Linked DNA regions of Homo sapiens: regions 2 and 3 are each linked to region 1. Evidence: fine-mapped expression QTL. A gene starts in region 1. Each other region holds a variant in brackets. All regions are shown on one strand. Distances are from middle to middle.

What was found. PIP is the estimated chance that this variant, and not a neighbour inherited with it, causes the effect. A credible set is the group of variants that fine-mapping cannot tell apart.
Region 2: its variant is the best candidate, but not a certain one, in a credible set for the expression of SLC6A6 in whole blood (INTERVAL, PIP 0.56).
Region 3: its variant is the best candidate, but not a certain one, in a credible set for the expression of SLC6A6 in whole blood (INTERVAL, PIP 0.83).

The regions. Positions count from the first base shown.
Region 1 is chr3:14,400,232-14,404,376 of GRCh38, forward strand. SLC6A6 (solute carrier family 6 member 6) reads left to right here and starts at 2,375. Exons shown (of 15, transcript NM_003043.6): 1 at 2,375-2,616. LOC105376959 (a long non-coding RNA gene) reads right to left here and starts at 2,176. Exons shown (of 8, transcript XR_007095825.1): 1 at 430-2,176. RefSeq lists enhancers at 1,799-1,848, 1,859-2,028, 3,349-3,408, 3,479-3,558 and a silencer at 2,169-2,698.
Region 2 is chr3:14,485,228-14,489,372 of GRCh38, forward strand. It overlaps SLC6A6 (solute carrier family 6 member 6), which reads left to right. Exons shown (of 15, transcript NM_003043.6): 15 at 1-4,122. It overlaps GRIP2 (glutamate receptor interacting protein 2), which reads right to left. Exons shown (of 24, transcript NM_001080423.4): 24 at 3,880-4,145. Among named protein-coding and RNA genes, the nearest start is that of GRIP2, 53 kb to the right of the region's middle. The variant G/T (reference allele first, on the strand shown) is at 2,049.
Region 3 is chr3:14,422,131-14,426,275 of GRCh38, forward strand. All of the region lies in intron 2 of SLC6A6 (solute carrier family 6 member 6), which reads left to right. Among named protein-coding and RNA genes, the nearest start is that of SLC6A6, 22 kb to the left of the region's middle. RefSeq lists enhancers at 1-71, 72-894. The variant C/G (reference allele first, on the strand shown) is at 2,446.

The sequences.
Region 1 (4,145 bases):
GGAGGTTACAGTGAGCTGAGATTGCGCCATTGGACTCCAGCCTGGGCAACAAGAGCGAAACTCCGTTTTAAAAGAAAAAAAAGAAAAGTACGTTAAAATAAATGCAGCAAACACTTATTGAGTACCTACTGTGTGTCAGGCCTATGATAGACTCCAGGAGTTGATGGAGGCAAAAGAACAGATCCCATCCCTCATGGAGCTGGTAACTGGATAGATGGTTCACTCGTGTGTCTTGCGCTGGCACTACCTGCATGAGGCTCCGCTGGCCTACCTGGAGGTCAAAGGATCCCATGGGCCTTTCCAAGTTGCAGCTCTGAACACACAACTCTTCCCTCCTCCCACAGCCACTGCCCTTGCTCACTCTCTCAGACCCTCAAGCTCAGCCCTGCCACCAACAACCTTGCTCTCAGGCCTTCGCACGGCAGGCACCTCTGCTAGAACTTGCTTCCTCTCCTGCCGGCTTCACTGCTCGTGGCTTAGTCAAAGCCTCCTTTTGGTTCAAACTTCAATCCTGGAGTCCCCTCCCCACGCTAGGACCTGCCCCTTTGCTTCAGTCTTTGTGCCCTGTGCGACCACACATGCACAGGGCGTCTGAGGAGTTTTTGCTTGACGTCTATTCCTGCAGTTCATGAGGGAACCTCATAGCTGAAGCAGAGGGATGTGGGAGACCCAGTCACTCCTCTTCCTCAGCTTTCGTTTGCTCACCTATAAAAGGGTACAGTGACCCTGAACTCAAAGGAGAGTGCTCAGGTGGCCAGAAGCAGATGTCACGTGGGCCACTGGGACCCTAGAGGCACTGCTGATCCCCAGGTGCTTCCTGGAGGAAGGGGCCACCCGGGGCCCGCAGAGAAGGGTGGGAAGGGTGACAGGAAGGCAAGGAAGGGCATGTGCCCAGTGGTCCTCGTCTGTCTTGGCTGGAGCCAGTATGAGGAGCACCCACTGGAAGGTCAGGTTGGAGTCCGATGGCAGGGGCCTCCAGGGAGAGCCAGTGTCACTTCGGGATGCTCCTTAGCATCCTGGGGCTGTACAGGGAGAGTGGCTGCAGAGCCCTTCCAGGCAGGGATCCTGGCCTGAGTGGGGGCAGCTCTTGGTCGGACCTGTGTGGTATTTCTTCTTCTTCTTCTTTTTTGTTTTTTTGAGACTCATTCTTGTCACCCAGGCTGGAGTGCAGTGGCGTGATCTCGGCTCACTGCAACCTCCGCCTCCCGGGTTCAAGGGATTCTCCTGCCTCAGCCTCCTGAGTAGCTGGGATTATAGGCACCCGGCACCACGCCAGGCTAATTTTTGTACTTTTAGTAGAGACGGAGTTTCGCCATGTTGGCCAGGCTGGTCTCGAACTCCTGACCTCAGGTGATCTGCCCCCTCGGCCTCCCAAAGTGCTGGGATTACAGGCATGAGCCACCGCGCCTGGCCGGTATTTCTTCTTTCATTCTCCGTGTAAATGGTGGAAGGATCGGCTCTCTCCTCCCCGCCTCCCAGGTGCAGAGAGAGAGAGAGAGAGAGAGGGACAGGAGAAGGCTGGGGTTCGGGGTTCTCACAGCGTTTCCCTCTCATGCTGCCAGGGCGGGGCAGTGGAAAATGGTCCCTGAGGGCCCGTTCATTCAAATAAGGACAAGAATAATGGCACACTCCCCATCTCCATTTAAAAATAGTCACATTAGCTGACACTGGCTTGGCACTTCCTAGATGCCGGGTGCGTTCCGAGTTCTCTACGCTGTTAACCTTGGATCTTCATAACAGCCGGAGGAGACAAGCGCTACTATTTTCCTTTCCATTTTATAGATGAGGACACTGAGGCAGAGAAATTGAGTCACTTGCCCAGGGTCACACAGCCATGGCAAGGCCAGGATTCTGGAGCTCTGTACCTGGCTTCACACCACAAGCTCAGGCCACCCTCCCGGGGCATACCGAGTCTCCCAGAACGTGGACGATCGCCCAGGGCAACGCAGTGGAGTGCGAGCCCGGTCTGGTTTGCACCTGGCTGCTCCAGGAGCCCTGGGCCTCATCCTAGGAGCCTGGCGGAAGAGGCGAGCGGTGGAGTTTGGAGGCTGCTGTGAAGGAAAGGACTAGGCGGGTCGGGTCGGGTCTGTCCTGCTCTTCTTCCGCAGGCAGGAGGCGCCCAGGGCGGGCTGCCGCACCTGGCAACGAACGTTCGCCGCGCGGCATGAGGGTGTGCGCGCGCGCTCGGCGAGCCCGGGTTCTTTGTGTGTCCGAGCCCATGCGCGCGTGCGTGTTTGCGTGTATGTGTGTGCATGTGTATGTGTGCGCGCGTGTGTCCGCACTTGGGGCGGGGCTGGAAGCCCCGGCCCCGCCCCGGCCCCGCCCCCGGCCCGGCCGAGCTGGTATTTTTCCACCCAGCAGGATGGGTGATGCTGAGAGCTGCCTGCTCAGACAACAGACACGCGAGGTCAGGAAGAAGCCGCTTATAAATTACCGCTTCCTTCGCGCCGCCGCCAACGCCGAGCCCCGAGGACCGCAAGCCCAGAGGACAAGCTGCGCCAAGAGGGAGTGCGGAGCGTTCACCCAGCGGGTCAGAGAGCGAGCGGGCAGGCAGCCCCCGGCCGGCGGAACCCGGCACAGCCGAGCAGAGCGCGGGCGGCGCCGCAGCCACCCCAGGTACCGGAGGGACCGGGAGCTGGGCGCGCAGCCGGCGCTGCCCGCCGTCTGCAGCCCCTCCCCATCCCCGCGTCGCCGCAGTCCCGGCCTCCTCCCCTCCGCGTGCGCCCATCCGGCGCCCCTTTCACCACCGCGGAAGGGACCGAGAGTCGCCTGCTCAGTCCCGCTGGCGGGGCTGTTATTGTTTCCCCGGCAAAAGGGCTCCGGCTCTTGGTGCGGGCGGCAGGAGAGTGTGTGTGTGTGTGTGTGTGTGTGTGTGTGTGTGTGTGTGTGTGTGGCATATCTGTGTGCCTGTCTCCGTCAGGATGCCTACATGTGCCTCCGTATCCCTGTGTCTGTGTTTCTGAGGGTGACTGTTTCACCGTGTCCCCAGCAGCGTGCACATGTGTGTTCCGGTGCATGTCTGTTATTCTCTGCGTGCTGGGCTGTGTGTGTGTGCCTCTCTGTGTGTGATACCTGAGTGTGCTGTCTTTGGATGTGTGCTCTTGTGTGTCCCCGTTTGTGTCTGCATGAATCTGTGTGTGGGGGGCTGCGTCTTCCAGGCCCTGGCTAGGTGCACGTGCGTGTCCCTGAGTGTGGTTGTGTCTCCAGGTCCCTGGTTGTGGGCACTCGTGTGTCCTCGGCTGTACCCAAGAGGGTGTCCCTGGTGCCTAGAGGGTCCAATGGCCAGAGCTGGTTCTCCAGGGCCGGCGCTGAGTGGGGAGAGGTGATAGGGCAGCGTGGCTCCATAGGTGCATGCACTCCATAGGTGGTGTGCAGGTGGCAGCGCCAGCGTCCAGCAGTCCTGAGTGGTGGGACCAAGGCCCGGAGGGGCAGCCAAGGGGTAGTGGACAGCCGGCAGGGCCAGCAGGACACTTCCCCCTCCAGACTATTTCTCTTCCTTCTGTGGGTTCCTCTTTTGAGTAGGAGATTCTCGTCCCCCTCCCACTAGGGAAGCCACACAGAGAGAATTCCAGGGACCTCCTCCTACAGCCTCAAAGCTTCAGCCTGGACTTCAGCCTGGACTGGAGAGGAGACCTGTGGGCAGCTCTCCCAGGCAGGGAGGTGTGTGCCGGGTAGGGCCACCGGCCTGGCTATTTTGGTCACTGTTGGGCCTCTGCCAGATCCCGGCATCCCCAGGACCAGCCCCAAAAGCTTGGGAGGCAGCCTGGGCCCCCGTTTCCTGTCTGGGGAAATAAATCAGCTCAGTAATTGCCCAGACACTTGAATGGAGGGTCTTCGGGCTGAGGTTTACTGGCGCATGGCTCCATTTGGACTTCACTAAATTGGCCCCCGCTTTGGCACAGCTGACGTTCAAGTAAATGTCACTGAGGAGATCTTTTTAAAATTTCTTTTTAATTTTTTGTTGGCTAGAAGGGAGGGGATCTTGTCCAGAGTCTCCTAGCCAGAAGGAGTTTATTTTTATGAGAGAGAGAGCGGGTGAGTGCTTAGCAACCACCTGCCTCCCTCTCGACCAGGGAGTCACCCAGGGATTGTGGGGTGGGCATGAGGAGGTGGGGTGGGGGAGGAATTTCATCAAGATGGTGTTG
Region 2 (4,145 bases), 85 kb after region 1:
AAAACCCACGGGAAGATGTCCGTGGAGAGGCAGAGCTTTCATACTGAATTAGATGTATTTTATGGGAATTTGGTAAATTTTTCTTTGTATTTTTTTTTTTACATATAAGTATATATACACTTAGAGATTGTCATATACTTTTACCACTTGAATTGATCTTCTTGCCAGCAATAGATCTCATTTTCAAAAGCAATTCTTCGGTGCTGTGTAGCTGGCAGAAAGTTCTGTCCAGTAAACGCAGGATGGAATTTTCCTGGGACTCTACACCCATCTTAAGGTGGTATACCTTCCAAATCCTGGTTCAGATGGAAGAAATAGCAGGAGAGAGGACCCATTAGCTGGCAGACCCAGGGGGAAGAAAGGAGGGCTGTGAGGAGATACCTCATTAAACTTGGCTTAGTGAAGAAGAGAGATGCCAAAGGAATGAACCAACCCTTCACATAAAGGAGACTGGCTGAAGCTGAATGAGGAGGCCCTATAGCAGAAGTCTGATTCTAAGAGCAGTAGAAACTTGTACCAGAAGCAAAATCCCACTTTTAATTTTGAGATGGTGAGTGGATAGTCAGTAGACCGTCAGAACCACTGGCCAGAGAGGGAGCTGCTAGAGATCCAAGAAGGCTGGCAGGAGTGAGGCTCACAACTCAGCCTCGCAAGAGGTGGCAGAGGCACAGGAGGCCACAGTCCTTCCTGGGGCATTCCAGGCAGAGAAGGAGCAGAGGCTCTCCCGGCAGGAGCTGGGGTCTCAGGGCTCAGATGAGTCTGTTGCATTTGAATGGGGTCATAGCAGGTTCTGGTCATTCCCCAAGCAACATCTCAGCATCTCTTAAAGTTGCCTGCAGGAATGAAGCATGACATACCTGTTGAGGGACTAGGGGAGTGGTGGGGAGGTGAGTGGACCAAAGGATATAGGCCCCAGGCATGCAGATGGGCCCGGTGTCGGGGAGGGGTGCTTTCTTTCCTCATCTCCCCACTCCCCACTCTCAGCCTGGGAGACTCCTGCCAAGCCCTCATTAAAGATGCCACCCTGGGCTGCCCTGGCACCTAGCAAGGCACACCAAGAACAGCTTTTGAGTCTGTATCCTCCACTGGGGGAAGTGCTCCCAGTTCAGAACAAGGGCAGCCCGTGGTGCTGACCTAGGATATAACAAAGCTCTTCACTTCAAAACCCCTGCAATAGCTGGGTTTACAGACATTTACCACCTGCGGACCCAAAAGAGAAGGCCTAGGAGAGTTTTCTAGAAGGTTGGGATTGTCAGGGTCCTGGCCCCTCAGAACTGGCTTGATCAAGGGCCTTATGTGGAGCAGAGGTTGTCTCTGAACCAGGAGAGAAGGTACTATACCTTTCAAATCCCCAGGGCAGACACACCCCCACCCAGCCCCTATTTGGACCTAAACTGTGCCATTTGAACAGTCACTTCCAAGCTCAGTCTAAATGAAACCGAAACGTGACCACGCACAAAGGCAGTCACTGCCTCGAGGGGTGCAGACCGCAGAATTTTCACAGCAGGGGCTCTTGGAACCCTGGAAACCCCCTTCTTAAATTTGGGAGGAGGAGTATGCCTTTGGTGTCCCCCTCCCAAGGGGCAATTCTGAACCCCATCTTTGGCAGGCATACATATTTCACTGTTTCCAAAGCTATCTACTCTGCCAAACAACACCCAGTCCTATTCCAAACTCTCAACGATTCTATCTTGTTCCTGTTTTTCTATGTATTTATGGTTGCCGTTTGTGTCTGATTTGATTTTACTGTTTTTTCCCTGATTTTATGGAGTAGCATTGTGACCTGTTTTCCTTTGTCTTATATAACTTTAGTAAACTAACCACTGTCAATGATTGAGGGCAGGTGGCACGTGGGGAAGAGGGGACTTGGCACGCAGTGGCTACCTGGGCATTTGTGGTCATTTCAGTTTCCATCTCCCCAGCGGGGGCTCCCTGGGTGAAAGGCCACAGTATTTTGGGTTGGTAGGCAAATTGCAACATTCTGGACATGGCCTGAGGAAGGCCTCTTCTTATAAGATTCTCAGACCAAATTCTAGACCAAAGACACA[G/T]GCAGACCAAGTCCCCAGGCCCCGCCTGGAAGGAAGTCGTTCCTCAACTCTCCCCAAGGCACCTGTCTCCAATCAGAGCCCTCTCGCCCAGCCAGCCCTGGCTCTGTGTGCAGAGCATAGCTCTGCGAGTACCTGTGTAATAATGCTCAACCTTCATGTCTCCGTATAAACGAAACTTTCCATGAGAGCTCATGACTCTGGTCCACCTGTCTATAGAGAATGGGCAAAGTCCTTCACCTGCTTTCTGCTTGGGATGGGTCAGAAATGCTGATGCCCGCACATAGCCCAGCCAGCCAGATCTGGAAAGGAAGCGAGGGGGTTGTTTAAATCAATTTTTTAAGATGAAGAAGTGGGAGACACTGCGTTGAGATGGGCCATGCTAGGGCCACAGAGATTTCCTGACGGTCAGGGAGAGAAGGGCCTCCAGGGTCCCCTAACCCAACGCCCTTGTTGTAAATGAGGTAACTGAGGCTCAGGGAGGCACTGTGAGCCAGGAATGGATTTTCTTGAAACAGCTCTAGCTGCAGGTTCTCCGAGGTAGGTGCAGGGAATGGTGAGTGTCTAACCAGGGCTACATCCAGCAACATCCTCAAGGTCTTCCTGACAACCAAAGACAAGCCTTTATGGAAAAGGAAATGCGCTCCCCTCCATGTTCAGGGATGAGGGGAGCAGCAGCAGCCACACTCCCACCATCCTCACAGAATTCCTGGACCCATGCGGTGGCTCCGTGAGCTGGGTGACTCCAGCCTCACCTGCACACCCCAGCCCTGCACGGGGCCCTCCTTCCTCCCAGCAGCCCTTGGTGAGCTAGGAATTGAGATCCCTGTTTGTGAAAGAGGGAACTGAGGTGCAGAGAAGCCAGAGGTGTGCCAGATCCTTAGGCAGGATTTAGATGAAGTCGCCCTGGCTCCAGACTGACCCCGAGGCTCTGCGGGGAGTTTCCAGGCAGCAGGAAGTGGCCTTGGATGCTCTCCTTCCAGGACAGCATAACCCCTGGGCCATGTGCAGCTCCTTCACTGCCCCCTGGATCCCCAGCATACCCCCAAAGACAGTGGGGAAACACAAGGGGAGAGCACAGCATGGCCCCTCCAGCCCACTTCAGGGCACTCTTGTATCACCCGGGTACCGCCACACTGGTCCCCCACCCAGCCAGCATCTCCCAGCACAGCCCCTCTCCCTGGGGAAATGCTCTGGGTAGCCAGTCTAAAGGCAGAGGCACCTAACTGCTCCCCGCAGCCCACCCCACCCAAGATTCAGACACAAGCCAGGAAAGGACCCAAGAGAAAATCCTTCAAGGTGGCCTGAGGTCCCATCCCTCCCTCAGACCCATGTGGTCCCAGGCCAGGCTGCCTGGGACACGGTAAATACCACTGTGTGCAAAAATCGAAGTACAAAACCACAAGACTAAACAAAACAAACCCAGAGAGCCAAACTTGTAGAGGTGGGCAGTCCAGAAAGCAGGGGGCAGCCCTCCCCCTTTCCTTCTCTCCCTGATCCTCAGAATATATATTGTTGTAATAGGAAGCATTTTTGCATTGTTCTCTTGTGGGTGTCACTACAGACATGTTCTGGCGTGTTCTCCGAGGGATGGAGCATCCTGTTATATATTTGACTTCAAATTGAGATGTTGGCTTCATTTTTTTTTTTTACCCAATTAATCTCCCAATCCCTAGCAACTGTGACTCTGTATTTAGCACAAGAGAAAGCTGAGAATGTGGGTCTTGCCTCCTTCCAGAAATATGTCTGGCTCATCAGGACATTTTTTTAAAACTTCAAAATATTTTTAAGATATTTTAAACTTTTATAAAAAAAAAATCAACCAACAAGAGACTTTTCTGAGGAGGAACATTTGTATTTGAACAAGATCCTTGGTGTGTAGTTCAGTCTTGCAGTATACAAGCTTTTGTGTATAAATGTTTTATGATATGATTCCCTGTATTTTGCAGGGGTTTTTTTCTCTTTTGCTTTTTAGATAAATATGTATATCAATATTTTAAATTCATCTTTGCTTTTTTTAGAGGAGTTTGTAATCACCTTATAACATGAAAATAAACATTTCCTTTTTAACATCCAACATGTGTGGGTTGTGTTCTGGTG
Region 3 (4,145 bases), 22 kb after region 1:
AAACCTCCTGGACTTAAAAAGCAAGCACCGCCAGGATCCCTGGGGCTGCAGACAGCCTCGGGGGTTTTGGAGGGCTGGCTCCTCAGGCACCCATGAAGGAAGGTGTCCTGGGGTCAGTATTCAGACCCAAATGCCCGCAGGGACCCTCAGGGTGCCTTTATCTACTCATGTCTCCACACACTTGCTGGCAGAGCTGGGACAAGTCACTAACCCTCTGTGTGACCTCTGATTCGCCATGGAAAAAAGAGTGAATAGAATAAATCATTTATTCCCAGGGTAGGTTCTTGGGGTGGCAGTGCCGAGCTTGGGTGAGTCTCCACCCCTTCGATTTAGGAGCCGATGCCCTGGTGCGGATCTCTCCTCTGAGCTGAGCGTCCTCCACTAAGTCAGGCACAGAGCACGTGCAGCATAGGGCCGGTGTCCAGGCCCCACCCCAGCTTGGCCGCTTAGTGGCTCACCTTCTGGGGGCCTGCATGCAGGCCACCTTGGCTTCCTGTCATTGCTTCTCACCCCCACCCTCCTCCCAGCCAGAGGTAGAGTTGCATCCCTGCTCTTCAGCCTTTCAATTCCTAGCCCCAGCTTGGCTCCCACCTCCAAATCCCTACCCTCACTCCTCTTGCTCTGTGGGGTCCCACCTGGGCCATTGTGTTGCAAAGGACTCACGCCTCCTACCTCCTTTGCTACCTCTGTCACAAGGAGGGGGCTAGGTTCTCATTTATATTTTCTGGGTTGAGTTTTCCTGAGAGCTTCTGCTAGTCTCACAGCCCCTCAAGTCTCTTCTGGGCATCCTGCCAGTCCTGGACAAGGGTTCCCAGACAAGGGTCTGTCTCTTGTCCCTTAAGTTACTGGGGACCCAGAGAGACCAGATTCTGATGAGGAATCCAAGACTGGGTCCACATCAATGAGAAGGAAGCCAGGATTGATTAGCAGTGTCTGTCAAGGGGGCAAGGTGGGAAGAGGTGGCATGTGTGTTGTCCACATGACACCCTTAGTAATGGGCATTTGCTTTGGAAAAACTGTAGAGGAACCCAGAGGACTTCAAAAGGACTCTACAGCCAGCAGGCAAGAGGTGTCTTCTGGATAGGAAGAAGGGGACGAAGTGCCTCTGGAAGGACAGACAGTGTGTCCAGGGGAGGGAGCCCTGCTGTGCCAGGCCTTCTCATGCCTCGGTGTGATCTCACACCTGGGATGAGTGTGAGACACTCACACATGAATGTTGTGAGACAACATTCATTCACTTAGTAAATATTGAGCAACCACTATACACCAGGCACAGTGCAGTTGGTAAAGAGCCAGGAGGCTGGACCTTGTCTCAGGTGGGTAGAAGGAAGCTGTTTGTGACTGTGGGCTCATGAGCCTGTCTGCCTCCACCTTTTCATCCACTTTCCTCATAATAAGCCTCCTGAGGCTCAGAGAAGTACAGTGACCTGCTCAAGGTCACACAGCACCTTGAGACCTCAGGCCTCTGCTCCTCTCAGAACCACCTTCCTGTTTTGGTGCTGTCAAGAGAATAGTATTTGGTGCTACTTCTTTGGGCAAGTCCATCTTCTGCCTGGGCCTCAGTTGCCCCATCTGTAAAATGGGCCCTATGATAACTACTGGGTTAGCAAGTGCATGTAGGAGAAAGCATCTTGGTATTTTGAAAATACCAAATGTGTCTTATTAATTAATATTGGTCATAATTCAGGGGTGATTTATTCACATTTAACAATCCAGACATTCAGTGAAGTCTCTCACCCTAAAGGAGACAAAATCAGGGAGTGTGGCCTTCTGTGGGCCAAGCGATCCCTGTGTGGCCGAGTCTGGAAGTCTCATGGCTGGGTTCTGGACCTGCAGGATGATTCTGGGGAGAAGGGTCGTCCCAGCTTAAGGTCATGGAGTCAAGACCTTTTGTTTTCCTTTGGCCTTTCTAGTCCATTTGAGAAAGTCACCTTTTCAAACCCCTGCCAGCTCTGCCTAGTACTGGAAAGGCCCCAGCAAGAGTGTTTGACGTTAGGGGAAGTTTGGGGAAAAATCTCTAAGCATATAAACATTGAGAATTGAAAGTCTGATCAGTCATCCAAAAGTTATGGACTTTTGCTGTGGTTCAGGCCCCAGCTGGGGCTAGGGACCCTGAAATGAGCTGCCCTCTGTCCAGCCTGGGAGCTTGTGTGGGAAGATGCTACAAATCAGGACCCTGTCAGGGATGGGGAGGGCCTCTTGAAGGTGCTTTGGGCACGCAAAGTTAAAAAAAAAAAAAAGCTCCCTGAGGTCTTGAATATCAAAAATATGCCAGTTGGGCACCAGACAGTGAGGGCATTCCCAGTAGGGGAAACAGCCCGTGGAAAGGCCTGGTAGAGAGTGGAAGCCTGTAGAAGCCCTAAGGAGTGCAGCGTGGCTGGGGTGTCCTGCTCTGGGCAATGGGGAGGGGAGAGGAGCTGCCTGGGGTAGGGGGTGGGGTTGGGT[C/G]TGGCTCAGTGGCCTCGGATCTGTTCAGAGTGGTTGGTCTTGATTCACTCTGGGGAACCAGCCAGAAACAGGAATCCTTATTTCATGGTTCCAACTGCCCCTTAAAGGTAGTGCTTGTTGTTTTGACAACTGGCTCCTGAACAGACAAACCCTGCCTTCAACCAAACACCGCTGCAGGAGAATCACAGGCACGGCCACAAGTCTCCAGAGGAAACCCACTCTAACGAGGTGTCTAACCCAGTTTGCTGACTCACGTGGTTTTGGGAGCCCGTGAAGTGCATTGGGAGGGAGGGGACGGGGACACGGCGCTATTGAAGGAAGCTCGGTCGAAGCCGCCTGTTTGACACACAACACCGGCTGGAGAAACCGTTCAGCTGGTATTTTCCCAGTGTGGCAGATCTGGAGCCCAGGGGTGTTTGTTTCTGCCTCTCTCTGCACTTAGCTGGATGCTAAGAAGGGGCGGAGTCAAGGTCAAGTGTTGGTTGAACGAAGGCACGCCATGAAAGATGGCTAATCTTTCTTGGGCACAGAGTATCCTGTTTCTCCTGAGAGCAAATCCAATTGTGTATTCGAGGCACTTCCTTGTACCTTCCTTGTGTAATTCACGACGATGACCCATTTTACAGATGATGCAACTGAGCCCCCCAGGGGGAAGTGACATTCCTGAGGTCACCACTTGCAGCTGGGAAGGGGTGCAGTGTTAGGTTCCAACTAAAACATAGGTGATGCAGCATAGGCAAAGGGTGGAACTAGGCAAACCTTATTTGGGAAACAGAGTCCCGCAGGAGCTGCCTGCACTGGGAATACAGAGCCCAAGCAGCAGAGGCAGGGAGGGCCCCTCCTCTCCACACACATTGTCGGGAGGAATTATGTAGAACTCGGCCATCTGGGGGTCAGCAGGAACTGCTTGACCAAATAAATAGATGAGTCAATTAAAAAGGACGGATTTCTTGGCTATATATAGTTGTGGCCTAAATCTCAGGTATCCTTGCCCCCAAGGAGTAAAGGGAACCGTTTTCAGATGGCCCAGGCTGTACATGGGAGAATAAGCTGATTACACCCGGGGCTGCAGTGGGTGACACACTTTGCAGGAGTGAAAGGAAGCTCTAAGGAGGTGAGGGGTGGGTGGGGGACTCGGGGCAGGGAGGGTGGAAGGCAACAATTGCGTTTCCAAAAATGGTGTGGGTTGGGAGACTACCCATGGTCCTTCCCCTCATCAGTTTCATTGAGATTGGTCACACCCCTGGATATCAGCCACTTAATTTCTCTGGCCAGTCTGAATTTAAATGGCTAAACATTTCTTCCCTAGCCTGCGGGGTCAGTAGTTAGTAATCACGGCAGGTATGCATGACTCTCACCAATTATGAGTATAATTAAATGGGAAGATGCCTTGCAAGCATTGAGCACTGGGCCTCGCGCAGCCAGGGCTGTTAGCTGCTGCTCTTATGATTGAGGCCAGCTGCCACCCGGTCCGTGAAAATACTTTTGATCTGGGCTGATTCAAGAGACCTGGATTCTAATCCTTGAGTTAATTTGAAAAATAATTCCCCTGCCTCCTGCTGGTTTCAGTTTCCCCCTGTGTCAGGTTGAGGGGGAGAGACTTCCTGGTATCTAAGGTCACAGCCAGGCGGTGCCCCAGAGCGCAGTGGTTACCGATCCAGACTCCAGTCCACCACTTCCTGGCTGTGCAACCTCGGTCA